2 linked regions of the Homo sapiens genome follow. The protein of the gene in region 1 interacts with the protein of each later gene in a pairwise test. Each region holds a gene or a part of one and is shown in the gene's direction. Other genes may lie near its edges. The genes, in order: MKNK1 and EIF4G3.

The links.
Region 2: the proteins of MKNK1 (region 1) and EIF4G3 interact in a two-hybrid assay, tested with the Homo sapiens proteins (one large-scale study listed by BioGRID and IntAct).

What each region holds. Positions count from the first base shown.
Region 1 is NC_000001.11:46,559,033-46,563,056, reverse strand, and holds part of MKNK1 (MAP kinase-interacting serine/threonine-protein kinase 1), read left to right. Parts: exon of another isoform or gene 1-206; intron 207-213; coding exon 214-408; intron 409-1,383; coding exon of another isoform or gene 1,384-1,414; coding exon 1,415-1,579; intron 1,580-2,779; coding exon 2,780-2,823; intron 2,824-3,245; exon of another isoform or gene 3,246-3,387; intron 3,388-4,024. UniProt on the Homo sapiens protein: May play a role in the response to environmental stress and cytokines. Appears to regulate translation by phosphorylating EIF4E, thus increasing the affinity of this protein for the 7-methylguanosine-containing mRNA cap.
Region 2 is NC_000001.11:20,805,979-20,809,897, reverse strand, and holds the end of EIF4G3 (eukaryotic translation initiation factor 4 gamma 3), read left to right. Parts: intron 1-2,397; coding exon 2,398-2,579; 3' UTR 2,580-3,419; downstream 3,420-3,919. UniProt on the Homo sapiens protein: Component of the protein complex eIF4F, which is involved in the recognition of the mRNA cap, ATP-dependent unwinding of 5'-terminal secondary structure and recruitment of mRNA to the ribosome. Functional homolog of EIF4G1.

The sequences.
Region 1 (4,024 bases):
CTGCTCCTCTGGATGATGGAAAATGATGGAGCTCAGTCTGCAGATGCCTTGGTGGCATCAGGCGGCTCACTGGCTGGCCTTCCTGATCTGTATCTCATCCTTCCAGCCTCCTGCTCCAGTCCCATCACAGTCTGCTCTCTGCCATCCCCTCTGCTGTAACTAAGCCTCTCTGTTCTCTGCCATCTCCCCCTCCCCCAACCCTGGCCCCCACAGTGTGGCTCTGCAGAATACATGGCCCCTGAGGTAGTGGAGGTCTTCACGGACCAGGCCACATTCTACGACAAGCGCTGTGACCTGTGGAGCCTGGGCGTGGTCCTCTACATCATGCTGAGTGGCTACCCACCCTTCGTGGGTCACTGCGGGGCCGACTGTGGCTGGGACCGGGGCGAGGTCTGCAGGGTGTGCCAGGTGAGTGCGGCCCCAGGGAGCACTGCGTAGACCCTGCTAGGGGTCAGTGTGGTTGGGGGATGCCAAGCAGGACTGGGCTGGGAGAGCGTTCCTGATCGGGATGGGGGCTCATAGTGCCCTCTCCCGCTCCTGTCACGGTGGCCACAAGGTAAAATAGAGATAATCAGACACTCCGCCCAGCTGGGAGTTCAGGGCAGGATTGTTAGAAGATCATGCCTGAACTGACTCTTTTTTTTTTTTTTTTTTTTTTTTTGAGATGGAGTCTCTCTCTGTCGCCCAGGCTGGAGTGCAATGGCACGATCTCGACTCACTGCAACCTCTGCCTCCTGGGTTCAAGCGATTCTCCTGCCTTAGGCCTCCCAAGTAGCTGGGACTACAGGCGCCGGCCACCACGTCTGGCTAATTTTTTATATTTTCAGTAGAGACGGGGTTTCATCGTGTTAGCCAGGATGGTCTCAATCTCCTGACCTTGTGATCCTCCCGCCTCGGCCTCCCAAAGTGCTGGGATTACAGGCGTGAGCCACCGCGCCCAGCCCTGAACTGACTCTTAAAGGGTGCATCCTGCCCTGCGGAAGAGGGACAAGAATCACAAGTAGAAGGAACAGCACGGGCATAGATGTGGGCACATGAAATAGCTGGAGTGTCTAGGAAGGAAGAGTGGAGTAGTAGGTCGGTGGTAGTGGGAGATGAGGCCTGAGAGGTTCACAGAGAGTCCTCTAGGAAGAGCCAAGGAATTTGGGCTTTGTTCTATGGGTGATCTCCACTCATCACCCATCCAGCCCACCAAGGGCATAGCCATCCTGGCCTGCCAAGGGCATTCTATATAGTTTGATCATCTAGGGGACAGTGCGGGGTGAGTCTGGGAAGAGGCCCCAGTCTGTGGCATCCCCAAGCCATGAGCTGCAGCTACAGCTGAGATCAATTGAAGCCGGTTGATCAAAACAATGACAGGCACATCCTGCCCATCCCTGGCAGTGTGGCCTCAGGAGGAATCTTTTGTACCTAGAACAAGCTGTTTGAAAGCATCCAGGAAGGCAAGTATGAGTTTCCTGACAAGGACTGGGCACACATCTCCAGTGAAGCCAAAGACCTCATCTCCAAGCTCCTGGTGCGAGATGCAAAGCAGAGACTTAGCGCCGCCCAAGTTCTGCAGCACCCATGGGTGCAGGGGGTGAGTGACTCCAGGGAGGGGTGTTTTCCACCACTTCAGGCCTGTGGCATGGCCACAAGGAAGCTGTCATGCCAGCAAGTGCTGAGCACCAGCCTTGTGGCTGGTGCAGCTGAAGAGGACAGCGTCTATCCCTGAGTGTGTAGAGTGAATCGACTCCTCCTGTTACCCCAGACTGAGCCCCTTATAGGCCATAGAGTTGGCTGTAAACTTGGCCACAGACTAAGCCCCAACAGAGTCCTCTGGGGATTTGGTACATGCACCCAGCCCCGCAAGCATCCTATTGTCATTTGAAGTCTGTAGCATCCTCCTCTTATATAGAAGCATCATTAGCTGAGGACACCCAGAAGTGAGCAAGGCCGTGCTGCGCTGATTGTTGTGTGGCCGAGTTGGGGCACATAGGTTCTCCTCATGGTCTGGGAGTCTGGGTACAGCTGGCCTGAAAGGCAAATGATCGTATTTTTTCCCTAAGCTTAGAATTCATGTCTTCACTAGAAAACATTTTTAAAAATCCTCCTTGGCTACTCACAATACCTGACCTCTGCCCTCCAAGGGGTCTGCCAGATGCTCCCATGACTTTCTGGTCTCCTTGGTGTGCCAGGCTCTGGCCAGCCTCAGTGACCCTACCAGTGGAAGGAGGCAAGCATTGCCATCCTATGTTGCAGATGGGGACCCAGTTTGAGTGTCTAACTGGCTCATTCCCAGACCCATAAGTGAGCACCTGCCACATGCCAGAGGGACAAGTGAGACCCAGTCCCTGTCTCTGTGCTCTAGTGGAGAGAAGTAGACAAGGGGATAAGTTACAGCATGATAAAGGCTTCTGAAAAGTGCTAGGGGCACAAAGGGAGCAAGACCCCACTCCCCATCCCGGGCCTGAGACTGAGGCAGGAAGGTGGCAGGGAAGGGGAAATGTGCGTCACAGGGGAAGTGACCCTTGAGCTGGGTCCTGGGGGATGATTAGGACTTTGCCAGGCAAAGGGAAAGAGGGGCTCTCCATGCAGAAGCAGCTATGTTGGGGGCTGCGGCTGCAGATTGTACCTTTCTTGCTCTCTGCTTGGAAGGCCTGACCCTGCAAGCAAGCATAGCCATTTCCCTGTGCTGCGCCAGCAGCCTATAGTAACCTACCCACTGCTGGCTTGGGTGGGGCAGTTCTTGAAAGGAGGGAGCAGTGCTTTACCTACACATCTGTCCTTCCCATTCTAGCAAGCTCCAGAAAAGGGACTCCCCACGCCGCAAGTCCTCCAGAGGTAAATGCTCTGACCACCCCCACGCCATGCTCTTCCTCAAGCTCTCAGCCACCATGGGGGTGGGGGCCGGGGGAGCCCATCTCTAGGCTCAGGTAGCTTTCTCCAAAGGGGCTCCCTGCCCATTTCCCCTCCTCACTCTCTTTTCCTCTACTCTGGATCTATCTCCCACCCTTCCCTTCCTTCACCTAGATTGGATCCTCTGCCCTCCAGCACCTTAAGGCCCCTCCTAGCACTGTTGGCAGGAAAAAAAACCTGTTTTGCCCATTGAACTGTAACTTACAGCCCAAAGACAGACCTTACCCATGGGTTATTCACACAAGGCTTCCCTCTGCCCTTGTATTTAATGAAAGGAGCAGAAGTGAGGGGCACGTACGGTACTAGACGGACAGTGATAATAGTGGCCACCAGGATTAAGTCCTTACCATGGCCAGGCATGGTGGCAGGTGCTGTAATGCCAGCTACTTGGGAGGCTGAGGCAGGAGAATCGCTTGAATCCAGCAGACGGAGGTTGCAGTGAGCTGCGATCACGCCACTGCACTCCATCCTGGGCAACAGAGCAAGCATCTGTCTCAAAAAAAATAGTAAGTCCTTACCACATGTCAGACGTGGTGCTAAGGGCTGGATATAATTATATCCATAATCTTCACGATGAATTTAAGAGAGGTGTTCTAGATGAGAGAGGTGAGGAGTGGCAATCAAGTTAACTTGCTTAAGGCCACACAGCAGCCCTGGGCTGTTTGACTCTGGAGCCCTTTTACAGCTGGACTGCCCTGTTCCCAAAGAGCCAGGGCTAAGCAGTGTGGGAAACCTTTTTGGCACCAGCCTCATGGCCAGCTTTTAGGAGCTACACAAGGAAGTCATACACCTCCATAATCGCAATTCGTGTGACCCAGTTGCTATTGCCCAATTTGGGTTCCTACCTGACTCTCTAGAGCAGCCTCCAGATGCCTTTAGATGCCAAACCTCAGATCCGCCTTAGAAGATTTATTCTGCAAACCCAAAGTGCCTGTCCACGCTAGCCCTGAGCTAGGTGCTGGGGACGTGGCATAAGCGGCGCAGGCCTTGCTCTGGGAGCTTTTTCCCCACGCAGGCTGGGAGAGGGAGGGACAGGTGTGTTTCATGTGCCCAGTCTCTGCCTCTGGTAGACCTGTATGTAGAGTTGTGGGAGCTCAGAGGAGGGTGCTCTGAGGAGAAGGGGGAG
Region 2 (3,919 bases), about 26 Mb from region 1:
CAGGCCTAATAAAACTTTCCACAGTGATGGTAGTATATATCCATACCATTGAGTATGGTAATCATGAGCCACATGTGGCAATTCTATACTTAAATATGTCTGTTGTGACTTAGGAACTGAATTATTGACTTTAAATTTAAATAACCATGTTTGACTAATAGCTTCCATATTGGACAACACAGGTCTAGGGCATGAAAATGGTTAATGATGTTGAGGATGATACTCTAGAATCTTTAGACACCCAACAAAGACCCTAAGTGTAGTGTATTTACCATGCTATATTTACTAAGGAGTTTCAGAATAGTTTTTAGTTAAGGGTTATGATTAATTCTTGGCTAATGAAACAAAGTAACCTGTACACTTAAGTCTTAGTGATACTTGGTGTTAACTAATGATTTTTATTACATCTTGAAAATTCAGTTGGTATTTGTTAAAGCGGGCAGTACATAGCTATTAGAGAGAGCACTCAAGTAGTTCTTTGGTACTTCCTTATTTTCGCTTTTGTAAAATTCCTTCTTTCCTAGTCCTGAATCGCTCTTGGAGATAAAGGAAAAGATGAAAGCAAATTATCCTTATAGTGTAACTGAAGAGACAATCTACCATGAATCAGATAATTTGATAATATTAGCTTAACTAATATAATTACAAAGATAAGTCTTTTTAAAAAAAGGCCGAGGCATGCAGATCACCCGAGGTCAGGAGTTTGAGACCAGCCTGGCCAACATGGTGAAACCCCGTCTCTACTAAAACTACAAAATTAGCTGGGCGTGGTGGCGCATGCCTGTAATCCCAGCTACTTGGGAGGCTGAGGCAGGAGAATCACTTGAACCCATGAGGCGGTGGTTGCAATGAGCCGAGATCATGCCACTGCACTCCAGCCTGGGCAAAAAGAGCAAAACTCCATTTAAAAAAAAAAAAGTTAATACGACTCATGATAAACCTAATATTGATTAGCATTTATTGTTTATTCCACTGCCTCCCTCCATTAATATAAATGATCGGAGAGCTGACTATAATAACTATAAGCTAATAACTTATTATATATGATAACTATAATTCTCAGTTTTACTATGAGAGTAAAACCGAGAATTAAAATCACACGGATAGTTTGGACGTTTAAAACAGTAAATAACAGGTGTAGTTTCACTGGATAAAATCCAGATGAGATAGCTTTTACTCATGTTTTCCATGTGAATGATCACCTCTTGTTCTTTTTTGAGACGGACTCTCGCTCTGTCACCCAGGCTGGAGTGCAGTGATGCAATCTCAGCTCACTGCAAGCTCCGCCTGCCGGGTTCACGCCATTCTCCTGTCTCAGCCTCCCTAGTAGCTGAGACTACAGGCACCCGCCACCATGCCCGGCTAATTTTTTGTATGTTTAGTAGAGACGGGGTTTCACTGTGTTAGCCAGGATGGTCTCGATCTCCTGACCTCGTGATCCGCCTGTCTCGGCCTCCCAAAGTGCTAGGATTAAAGGTGTGAGCCACCGCGCCCGGCCACCTCTTCATTTTTAAAACAACATTACAAGGAATAAAAAGCATATCCTGCCTTTCTCCCTTCCCCCAAATTTTGTAAAAATAATACAGTAAACTTGCAGCGCAGAAAATAGTAAAAAGAAAGTAAAAAACTACTCGTATTTAAATTTTATAGGGTTTAGATTGAGATAAACATGATATGAAACAGCTTCACTGGTATCAGAAGATAGTTCAGATTGGGCCGGGCACGGTGGCTCACGCCTGTAATCCCAGCACTTTGGGAGGCCAAGATGAGCGGATCACCTGAGGTCAGGAGTTCGAGACCAGCCTGGCCAACATGGTGAAATCCCTTCTCTACTTAAAATACAAAAATTAGCTGACTGTGGTGGCCGGCGCCTGTAATCCCAGGTACTTGGGAGGCTGAGGCAGGAAAATTGCTTCAACCCAGGCAGGCGCCTGTAATCCCAGGTACTTGAGAGGCTGAGGCAGGAAAAATTGCTTAAACCCAGGCAGGCGCCTATAATCCCAGGTACTTAGGAGGCTGAGGCAGGAAAATTGCTTAAACCCAGGAGGTAGAGGTTGCAGTGAGCCAAGATCGCACCACTGCACTCCAGCCTGGGGACAGAACAAGATTGTCTCTCAAAAAAAAAAAAAAAAAAAAAAAAAACAGAAAAAAAGTTCAAATTGTACAAAATAATAGGAATAAAAAAGAATTTAGACTGCTTCAATCTTTTTTTCCTCTTCTTTAAACAAGTTGTTGGGCTGTTTATACTGTCAAGAGCAAGTATGGTGAATTGTCATTATTGCTTTTTTCTGGGGGAATTAATGCACATTTATTCAGTCATTCATTATTTTGAAATATATTCTTTTCCTCATAACTACAGTGTCCCAAAGCTTATAGTTTATTTTCACCTCCTTGCAGATTTGCTGCGGATGTTTTTTGATTGTCTATATGACGAGGAGGTGATCTCCGAGGATGCCTTCTACAAATGGGAGAGCAGCAAGGACCCTGCAGAGCAGAATGGGAAGGGCGTGGCTCTGAAATCTGTCACGGCATTCTTCACGTGGCTGCGGGAAGCAGAAGAGGAGTCTGAGGATAACTAAAACTTCAAATACACAAAATGAAACAAAAGAAACAATTTAAGTATTTTTTTAAAAAGTTTCACGTCTTCGCCAATCACAGTGCAGCAAGGCCAATTCTCGCAGAAACCCCCACGTGTGCACGAGTGGGAGAGGGGAAAGAGAAAAAAAGGTGATCATGGAGGAAAAAGGTACTGGATAAAAGTAAACTTCAAACCTTAGGGCGGGAGCACTAAAACCAAAATACATGTATTATTTATAGAAAATATTTTCTGTTTTAATCTTTTCTTTTTAAACAAGGACTCATACTTAAAAAAATGTTTAGCAAAAAAAAAAAAAGTTGAGAACTTTTAATTTATTTTAAGGACTGCAAATGCCAGTGTAATTTTTTAATTTGCAGTTTCTGTAAACAACTTGTATAATAGAAAAGCAGAGAAATAAATTTCCCTCCCCTTCAAGATGCACCTCATGTTTGTTTTAAGGTATAGCATTTAGTCCAGATTTGAGAAAGTTTGGGGTGAACAAGGTAAGAAAGATTTTTTTTTTTTTGGCATCAAATCTTTCTGCCTGCCTCTCAGCTTGCTTCAGAAAATTTAAAAAATCACAATAGTAATCAAAACATACATAACATTGAAACAGAAGGAAATGCTGTGGACCACAGAACTCCAAGAATTGTTTAAAAAAAAAAAAGTGCTACCCTGAGAAAAGTACTCTTAATACTCTTGAAATCTTTAGAGCAACTTTAAGGCTTGTAAATACATAGAACAAATATTTAAAAAAACAAAAAGAAATTGACTCAGTACTATTTCTTTTCACTTTGAAAATATAAAGAACAAAATAAAGACAAACATTGCAAGTTTAAAAGAAAGTAAAGTGACTTCTCCTTTGGACAGCTGCTGCATGTGTGCCCATTCCTGGGGGTGCTGTCTGGCTATTTATTGTCTAATTCAAATCACTCCTGAGGGGAGAGAGATAAAACGAGAGAGAGTGAGAGAGTGTGTGTATGTGCGTGTATGCGCACGTATGTGCATGCACATGTATGTATGTATATGTCTCTACTCACTGAAAAGGCAAGCTACTTTGTGGGTAAGGAGGGCACTTGTGCTTGGGTGGGAATGCCCCACTGGGAGTCCAGTGAAACTTGTTTCCAACACTAACTAAAAATGCATTCAGGACAGTAGGCCTCAAGGGCAGTCCTTTAGATAACTAAGTTTTCCACTCTGTGTATCAGGACTCAGGACAATAATTCACTTTGAGACTGCCACTACCACTGATTTTAAAATCTTCCATCAATTGCCTGCAATGCTTAAGAAACCCAAAGATGTCCTCTAAAGAATGAATAAAACCAAAAGCTATATTATGCT